Linked DNA regions of Homo sapiens: region 1 is linked to region 2. The links come from fine-mapping of genetic effects on gene expression. A gene starts in region 2. The other region holds a variant in brackets. All regions are shown on one strand. Distances are from middle to middle.

Region 1 (4,000 bases), 51 kb before region 2:
CTCCAAGCCCCTGGCAGCAAAGGTTTCTACCCACCCTTGTACTGCCCTAGCTCTTACCTTTTGTGCAGAATACCCTGTGCCATCTGTAGTGGTAACCTGCACTTCATCTCCAGAATAATCAATACACTGCACCTGCTCAAAAAGCAATTATGAAAAAAAGTGAGGGATGGAACCACGTGATCCAGGATCCTTTCCGATTCTCATATTACATGAATTTACATCTCCAAGGCTAAGGGGAATCTTTTCCTGGCATTCAGAGATCTAAACAATTGTTATAGCTGAACTGAGGGAGTTAGAATTTATACTCTGTCAGAATATACAAAATAAACATTGTGTCGGAATATAGAAGATAGTTATAATATGGTGTGAAGGGAAATACAGTTAAGTAATCACCCCCATGATTACAATAACACACAATACAAATGCACTGAGACAAAGATTTGAAGGGAAAATTTTAAAGTGAAAATAACTGCACTGGGTTAGGAAAGTTGCGAAGCAATTTGAATACCTTCTTCTTAATAGAAATGCACTGGGGCCACTACGGTTTCCAAGCAGCAGCAGCTGCCTCACTGACATGGATAATGCTACACAGGCTACGAATGAGCCACAAAAGTACTTCTAGACCCTGGCTAAACACCAAAGCCAGCCCCATTCTCCTGCGTGAGCCGCATGCCCAGAACTTCACATCCTCCCCAAACAAGGCGAGCCAGAGCCTCCCAGCAGTTGATACTCACTGGAGATTTGAGTTGAATGTCAAGCCCTTCTGCCAGTTTTTCAATTATCACCGAGTACCCGGGAGTTAGCAGAGTGTGGTCACCAGCAAACTGGGCAAAGAATTCATTGTGGTCCCACGAGCGAGCAGATACCTGGGAAACAAGAGAGGTTGGGGACACAGCAGTGTAAATCCTTGTGCCTGTGCCTGAGAGCCAATATGAGGAGCTCCAGGTGGGAACAGCCACCAAGGCAGGAGGGCAGGGGACAGGCAGACCAGCCTAGGCAGAGACCACCACTGGGGGAGGAAATCTCGATAATTTTATTTGAGGAAAGTTTATTTGAGAACAAAAGGTCCATATGACTTGGACATGGGTACCACTCCTTGATAAAAATAGAAGCTGATTTTCTATATTGACAACTCTGGCAAAGTAGAATTCTATGAGGGTAAAACTGTATTTGATCAACATATATAAATATGCTATCTGTCCTCAACATGGAAGCTCTACAGAATAGAAACCCTGCACGATTTTGGAAAATAGCATGACTCCAATCACAATGCAGAACCAAGTGGAAATGGAGAGGTCCCAAAGGGGCCTCTGAAATCATCCGTGGAGTTCTATTCAAAATACAGAATACTGGGGTATTAAGTTCACAGTTGGTTAAATGAGTTAGGCAAGCTTAAATTTACTTTAACAAGGTAAACAGACCAGACTTGCAAGGATACTCTATTTTGGCTTCTCGAGAGCAGTGTTTCCGACTCCACGGTTCCACAGAAATGACCCAAGGCCCTCTGCAGAGGGCAGGGAAAGGACGGTAAAGAGACAAGTCCTGGTGCAGTGGCTCATGCCTGTAATTCCAGCATTTTGGGAGGCCGAGGCAGGAGGATCACTTGAGACCAGGAGTTCAAGACCAGACTAGGCAACATGGCAAGACCCCATCTCTACAAAAAATAAGAAAAACATAAGAGACCCTGATCTGATTCAGCCCAATAGCCCTCCTTCCTTTGGAGTGA[T/C]TGATTTCTTTTTTCTCCCCCTAGACAGGGTCTCACTCTATCGCCCAGGCAGCAGTGTGGTAGCACCATCACAGCTAACTGCAGCTTTGAACTCCTGGGATCAAGCAATCCTCCCACCTCAGCCTCCCACTTAGCTGGGACTACAGGCACATGCCACTAAGCCCAGCTAATTTTTTGTATGTTTTGTAGAGACAGGATTTTGCCATGTTGCCCAGGATGGTCTTGAACTCCTGGGCTCAAACAATCCGCCTGTCTTGGCCTCTCAAAGTGCTGGGATTACAGAAGGGAGCCACTGCACCCAGCCTCTTCCTTTGTTTTTACGTATTGAGCTTCTTTCACAAGCATTATCTGAAGAAGAGTTTCTCTTGCTTAAAAAAAAAAAAAAAGTTTAAAAAACAACCAAAACCACTGTGGGGTTAATATGCTCAGAAGTCATGGTTTTCAAACTTTTAAGGAGAATCATTCTTTCCTGTTTATCGAAACCAGCTCAAATTCAATATTTAGACACACAAAACACACACACACATACACAAAAACAAGTATTTTATTTATTTATTTATTTTGAGACTCCAGGCTGGAGTGCAGTGGCGCGATCCCAGCTCACTACGACTTCCGCCTCCCAGGTTCAAGCGATTCCCCTGCCTCAGCCTCCCGAGTAGCTGGGACTACAGGTATGCGCCACCAGGCCTGGCTAATTTTTTGTATTTTAGTAGAGACAGGGTTTCACCATGTTGGCCAGGATGGTCTCGATCTCCTGACCTCATGATCTGCCCACCTCGGCCTCCCAAAGTGCTGGGATTACAGGCGTGAGCCACTGCGCCCGGCCTAAACCAAGTATTTTCAAAGCACACCTTTCACAAAACCCAAGCGCACCTGGTGAAGGTTGCTGCCACAGGCGTACTCCAGGTTACTGAGATGGAACTGAAGCACCTGTCCCTCCAGCTCACTGAATTGGATACCAGATTCCTTAATAAATGCCTTGTAGATTTCTTCTATCTTTTCTGTAATGGGAATGGATCAAAGCAGAAAAAAATAGCTTTAACAAGATTCTCCAATTCTTTCTCCTTTGCTTTCAACCTCTGTCACCCAGCAACACCCAAAACTTCCAAAGTCTTTTCCCAAGTAAAGTCAGAGGGGAAAAGATCTCTTGATAAGGTCCATTTCTCTCAGGAAGAGAAAGTTTATCTTTTTTTTTAATTTTATTATTATTATACTTTAAGTTTTAGGGTACATGTGCACAACCGGAAACAAAGCTATGTAAGTTCTATATCTTCAGAAACGTCTCAATTTCGCTTCGTTGAGAAGTGGTTTCCTCTTTTGCTCAAGATACAGAAAAACTGTCCCCACACATAGATGTACATGCACACACACAGAAGTTACCATTCTCTTTCTGGTCCTGCTGCCATCACCTTAAAGTCAATGCTTACAACATCTCACCTCAACTAAGAGACCTGTAACCTATTGGCTACAGTCTGTCCCAAACAAGAATATTCCATTATGGGCTTGTATCTTGTCAGCACTCCGCCTCCATATCTACAATTACTGGTTGCCTATGTAATAAATTCCCCAACCACAGCCAGGCAAAGCTAGCACATTTTAATCTTTCCAAAGGCAGCAGCTACGATCTGCCCACTCGCAGGCTCTGCTGTAATGCTTTGAATCTTTTTCCTGGTAAATTCCTACCCTGCAGGGTCTGCGACCTCCCACTCTCCCTCATGGGAATGCCTTCTCCCACCCAATCCCATCCATTCTTTATAGTCGGGCATCACCGGGCCGTGGCAAGCCCCCAGAATTTCTCCCTGTCATCAACTCCAGCCCTTACTTATCTGTCCCACTCAACCGGACCTTGTAACTATATGGACACAGCCCTGTGATATCATTTTTGTCTTACATTCCTTTATAGCAGGGCTGGAAGAGGGTTCTGGCTTGATGTCTGACTAATTCTAAGCATCTCAGTACAGGTTACTTCTTTACAACTGTTCCAGTGATGACAACCATCCAAAACATGTATCACAGACTCCACGTTTCTTTTTCTGGTGGTGTTTTCTTTTTCTTTTTTTTCCTGAGATAGGGTCTCACCATGTCACCCAGGCTGGAGTGCTGTGGTGCCATTCCGACTCACTGCAGCCTCAACTTCCGGGGCTCCAGCAATCGGCCTCCCAAGTAGCTGGGACTACAGGCGCCCGCCTCTATGCCCAGCTAATTTTTGAATTTTTAGTAGAGATGGGTTTCACCATGTTGCCCAGGCTGGTCTCAAACTCCTGAGCTCAAGAA
Region 2 (4,526 bases):
TTAATCTAACTGAATACTAGAAAATAGGTACTTAATGCAACAAAGAATTCAAGAAATGGTTAACAAGGAAATGAAAACATGAGCTATAAAAGCCATTATTAAATCTTATCGAGGGTTTTTATGATAGCATATTTTCAACTTTATACAATTGAGGGTTATATGAATCCATTCTCAGAACTTTTGGCACTTGATGTAATTTATATATCTCCACTTGCTGGGTCCTTAGGTCTTAAAATGAAGAAAAAATTTTTAGTATACTAAAATGTCTTCCTTCTTGATTTTTCAAATTAATAAACACACCTAAATATAACCAATTGGTTTCATGCTCAACATTATACATATATTTCTAATTTTTAATTCAAGCATTTAAAATTTGGCTTTGGTTTTCTTTTAATGTGATAAAAAAGTGGGATTTTTTGGTAAATATATAAGTGGATATATCAATATGTAGATTTCATTATAATAATCCCTAGGTTTTTCTGAAGCAGCTTATTCAAAAAGATTTTTTCTTTTTTTTGAGACGGAGTCTTCCTCCGTGGCTCAGGCTGGAGTACAGTGGTGCGATCTCGGCTCACTACAACATCCACCTCCTGGGTTCAAGCGATTCTTCTGCCTCAGCCTCCCGAGTAGCTGGGATTACAGGTGTGTGCCACCACGTCCGGCTAATTTTTGTATTTTTAGTAGAGACCAGGTTTCACCACCTTGGCCAGGCTGGTCTTGAAGTACTCCTGACCTCAAGTGATCGCCCACCTCGGCCTCCCAATATTGAATAATTCAATATTGAATTATTCAATATTCAACATGCAGTTCAATGATTCAATATTAAATCCCCAATTGCCTAGATATCTTTTGTTGATTCTCCCAGCAAGGCAAATAATTATTGATGGTAATTTTCTCATGTACCTCCTGAAGAAGCCTTCTCTCCCACTCGCCTTTCTGCCACTAAAATAGATTTAAAAACACAAAACAAAACTGGTCAAAGCCTTGAGTTATGTGTGTATACGTGGTGTGGGGGATTCCCCAACTGGAGTGGACTGGGGAGTCCTGCAGGCTTACCCAAGGGAAGACTGGACTTCTATGTGGCTGGTTTCCACATCACTGAACCCCAACTTTCTACAGCTGGGTCGGCCTCTTCCTTCCTCTTTCACCTGTCAGCTGCCCGGCCGTTGACTAACAGCTACCCTAATCGGGCCACCCCTCCTCCAGGTCTCCAATCCCAGAGGAGTTACCCCAGCAACCTGGCAATGCTCATCAAGTCTCAACGCGTGGTGGCTGTGCCAGAGAATTACTACAACACCTGCAAGGCTGTGCGGGCTCCTGGCCGCACCCTATCGGCCGGGAAGAACAAGCGAGGGAGTTCCTACTCCAGGACCGTGGGGTTCTCCCGCGGCTCTGACAGTCCCCAGGAGGGAGCCCCAAACTCCCGGTGCCAGCTGCAGCCGCCTCGCTTTCCGAGAAGCTTTCGGAAGCTTTTCGAAGTCGGAGAAGCAACTGCCCCGGGGCTCACCTTTGCGCTGAAGAGGTGCCGGGAGTCTCGGGGAAAAGGCACCGCTGTACAGAAAGGAAACATTGTAGGGGGGTTAGCCGACCGGCAACATCGCGACGAACCCGGCGACCCCACGCCCCAACACCCTAGCCCGGGAATTCCCCCTTCTTCAGACAGATACCCACCCCGCACCCTCTTTTAATCCGGGGCAGGAGGTATCCGTCCCTGGGGCACCCGCCCACCTCCCACCACGGCGAGGGGCGCTGCACAGGGGGAAAGGGAGGGCTTGCACCCCAACCAAGCTGCTTTGTGCAACGCTGTCACCCGAAATCCGCCACGGCCCCCACGCACGCCCCCGGAGTGGGGAGCCTCCCACCTCTGAGCGCCAGCGAGGCGGTGCGCGCCGCCCTGGACTGCGGGCGCCTCTCCGGAGCCGCGCGCCGCGCGCACAGGACGGCTGCAGCCGCGCCGCGAGCCCCAGCCTCTTCTCGGCCGCCGCCGCCGCCGCCGCTTCCGCCCCTGTCACGGCGTGACCCGGGGTGGGAGGAGCCGACAGGACTAGGGATGGGTAGGGTCCCCGCCTTCGCTTTAGCCGCAGCGCTCGCTCCGCCCTGCCCATTTCCGCCGCTGCGCAAACCCCGGCGCTTGGGGAAGTGGGTGGAGTCTGTGCAACGAGGTACGGGGCGGGAGTGGAGACGGGGCGCCGGGAGAGGGGGCGGGAACTGAGGCGGGGCGCGGGAAAGAGGCGGGGCGCGGGAAAGAGGCGGGGCGCGGGCGGAGGCGGGGCGCGGGCGGAGGCGGGGCGCGGGCGGAGGCGGGGCGCGGAGAAGTGGCGGAGGTGGAAGCGGAGGCGTACCCGCCCCTGGGGACGTCATTGGTGGCGGAGGCAATGGCCGGCAACCAGCTGTAAGCGAGGTAGGCTCACTCGGGCGCGGAGGGTGCGGGTGAGAAAGGGAACGATTTGCTAGGAGTGTATGCGCCCGTGCTAGGGCTCCCAGGAATTCTTACAAGCGTAGACAGCCTAGCAATCAGCCCTGTGAAGTGGGGTTCAGGGCAGAAGCGGAAACTGGGAATAACGAGGTCGGACAGTAAATGACCTGAATCCAATGTCCAGGATTTAAAGTGCTTCCAAAGCACTGGTGTGTTTTAATTATTTTTTTTTCTTTTTTCTTTTAGAGACAGGGTCTCCCTCTGTCGCCCATGCTAGCGTGCAGTGGCACAATCATAGCTCACTGTAACCTGGAACTCCTGGGCTCAAGTGATCTTCCCGCCCCAGCCTCCTCGGTAACTGGGACTACAGGCTCGCTGCACCACGCTTGGCTAATTTTTCAAATTTTTTTTTATAGAAACGGACTCTCGGTTTTTTCCCCAGCCTGGTGTATTAGTGATTTTTGGGAAAAAATAAGTACTGCCAAATAGTGAGTGATCCCTGGTGATGTGGGAAACTGGGGTGCTGTAAATATTCTGTCTTGCTCTGCGGTGGTTACACAGGTGTATGTATATGTAAAAAATTCACCGAGTCATACTCTTTTAAGATGTGTGCACCTTAGGAAAGTTTCTTCTCAATTTTATGAAATTTAAAAACAAAACTATAGCAGAAGCTTTTGAAAAGGTGAGAATGGAGACTAGAACAACTTGAGGACTTTGTTTGTGGGCAGAAATTTTTGTGAAATTTCCCTTCCTTAATTCTTGTAATGTGCACTTTTTTTGTATTATAGAAATAAACTTTATTTCTCTAGAAATGATGTATACAAGTGGAGTCCATGCTGAGAAACTGTTAGAACAGCTAAGACGTTGAGCCCAGGAGTTTGAGACCAGCCTGGGTAACATAGCAAGACCCTGTCTCTACAAAATATTTAAAAATTAGCCAGGCATGGTGGTGCACCCTTATAGTCCCAGGTACTCAGGAGGTTGAAGTGAGAGGATCGCTTGAGCCCCAGTGTTGGAGACGGAAGTGTCATTACACCACTGCACTCCAGCCTGGGGGATAGAGAGAGACCCTGTCTCAAAAACAAACAACTAAGACATGATTAAGTTATGTGCATGATTTTGTTAGACAGTTCAAGTTTGTGTGAAAGGAATAGAGTTGTGCTACTCCAGGCTGCTGTGGAACTCTGATAAAGATTATGCTTCTCTTTTAAGTAGAGAACTGCTTTATGAAGCCTTGAATTTAGGTTCCAGAGTTTCTGAATGAAAATGAGAAAACTGCAACATTCTTTTGCTTTTCTGTACCCAATATAAATCAGATACTTTCTACTGACCTCTCAGAAAACTCAGAGTCACCTCCTGATACCATCAGGGTCTTGCAGAAGCCATTTGTCAACAAATATTTGCTAAGAAGTGAATTCATGTTCCCAGGTAATGAGAGAAATGCCTCCTCCCTATATCCTAAGCATACTGAGGCCAAATTTGGCAACAAAAGGGGAAATTTGCCTGAAATACATGCTTTTATGCAATGTTTGCTATTTCACAGATTAATCATTAAATTAGAACCACCAATAATAGCATGCTAGTATAATCCAAACTAGTTTCACTAATGATTTAAAGGGAATGTTAGAATAATGGTGTTATATTGTCCTTAATATTGCAGAGTTGACATTGAAAGGAAAGGCATTTTCCTCATACATTCAGATGGATCTGCAGTTATGGTCTGTCAGCTGAAGAATGAGAAGTTCATAATTTAGAAAGGAGAACTCTTTCTCATGAATGGTTTCAGACTGTAGAGCAGCCATTCTGACTGGCTGAGAAGTGTAGCCGCAGGCCAGAAGCCAGAAACTGACACTTCCAGGGAGGGGCAAAGGGAACAGGAATTTATGCTGAGGAAGGTGGCCAAATATACATATTCAGTAAGCTGTAGGATGACTCATGAATATTTATGAAAGGAGGAAAGTACCCATGAGTAATTGAGCTTCATGGGTACCATGCACAAAAAATGGCGGTGTTACCACAATCACAGGATGGAGTTTTTGGCCCTCTTATATCAAAAGGTGAAGCAGAGGACAGAAAAACCCTTACTGTGCATTCTCAGTAGACTGGCCAG

What was found. PIP is the estimated chance that this variant, and not a neighbour inherited with it, causes the effect. A credible set is the group of variants that fine-mapping cannot tell apart.
Region 1: its variant is the best candidate, but not a certain one, in a credible set for the expression of KDM1B in whole blood (TOPMed, PIP 0.81).

The regions. Positions count from the first base shown.
Region 1 is chr6:18,204,264-18,208,263 of GRCh38, reverse strand. It overlaps KDM1B (lysine demethylase 1B), which reads right to left. Exons shown (of 22, transcript NM_001364614.2): 15 at 2,600-2,727; 16 at 735-866; 17 at 58-132. Among named protein-coding and RNA genes, the nearest start is that of KDM1B, 51 kb to the right of the region's middle. The variant T/C (reference allele first, on the strand shown) is at 1,727.
Region 2 is chr6:18,152,908-18,157,433 of GRCh38, reverse strand. KDM1B (lysine demethylase 1B) reads right to left here and starts at 2,012. Exons shown (of 22, transcript NM_001364614.2): 1 at 1,863-2,012; 2 at 1,508-1,551. It overlaps TPMT (thiopurine S-methyltransferase), which reads left to right and starts at 2,357. Exons shown (of 9, transcript NM_000367.5): 1 at 2,357-2,401. RefSeq lists an enhancer at 1,072-1,311 and a silencer at 1,752-2,311.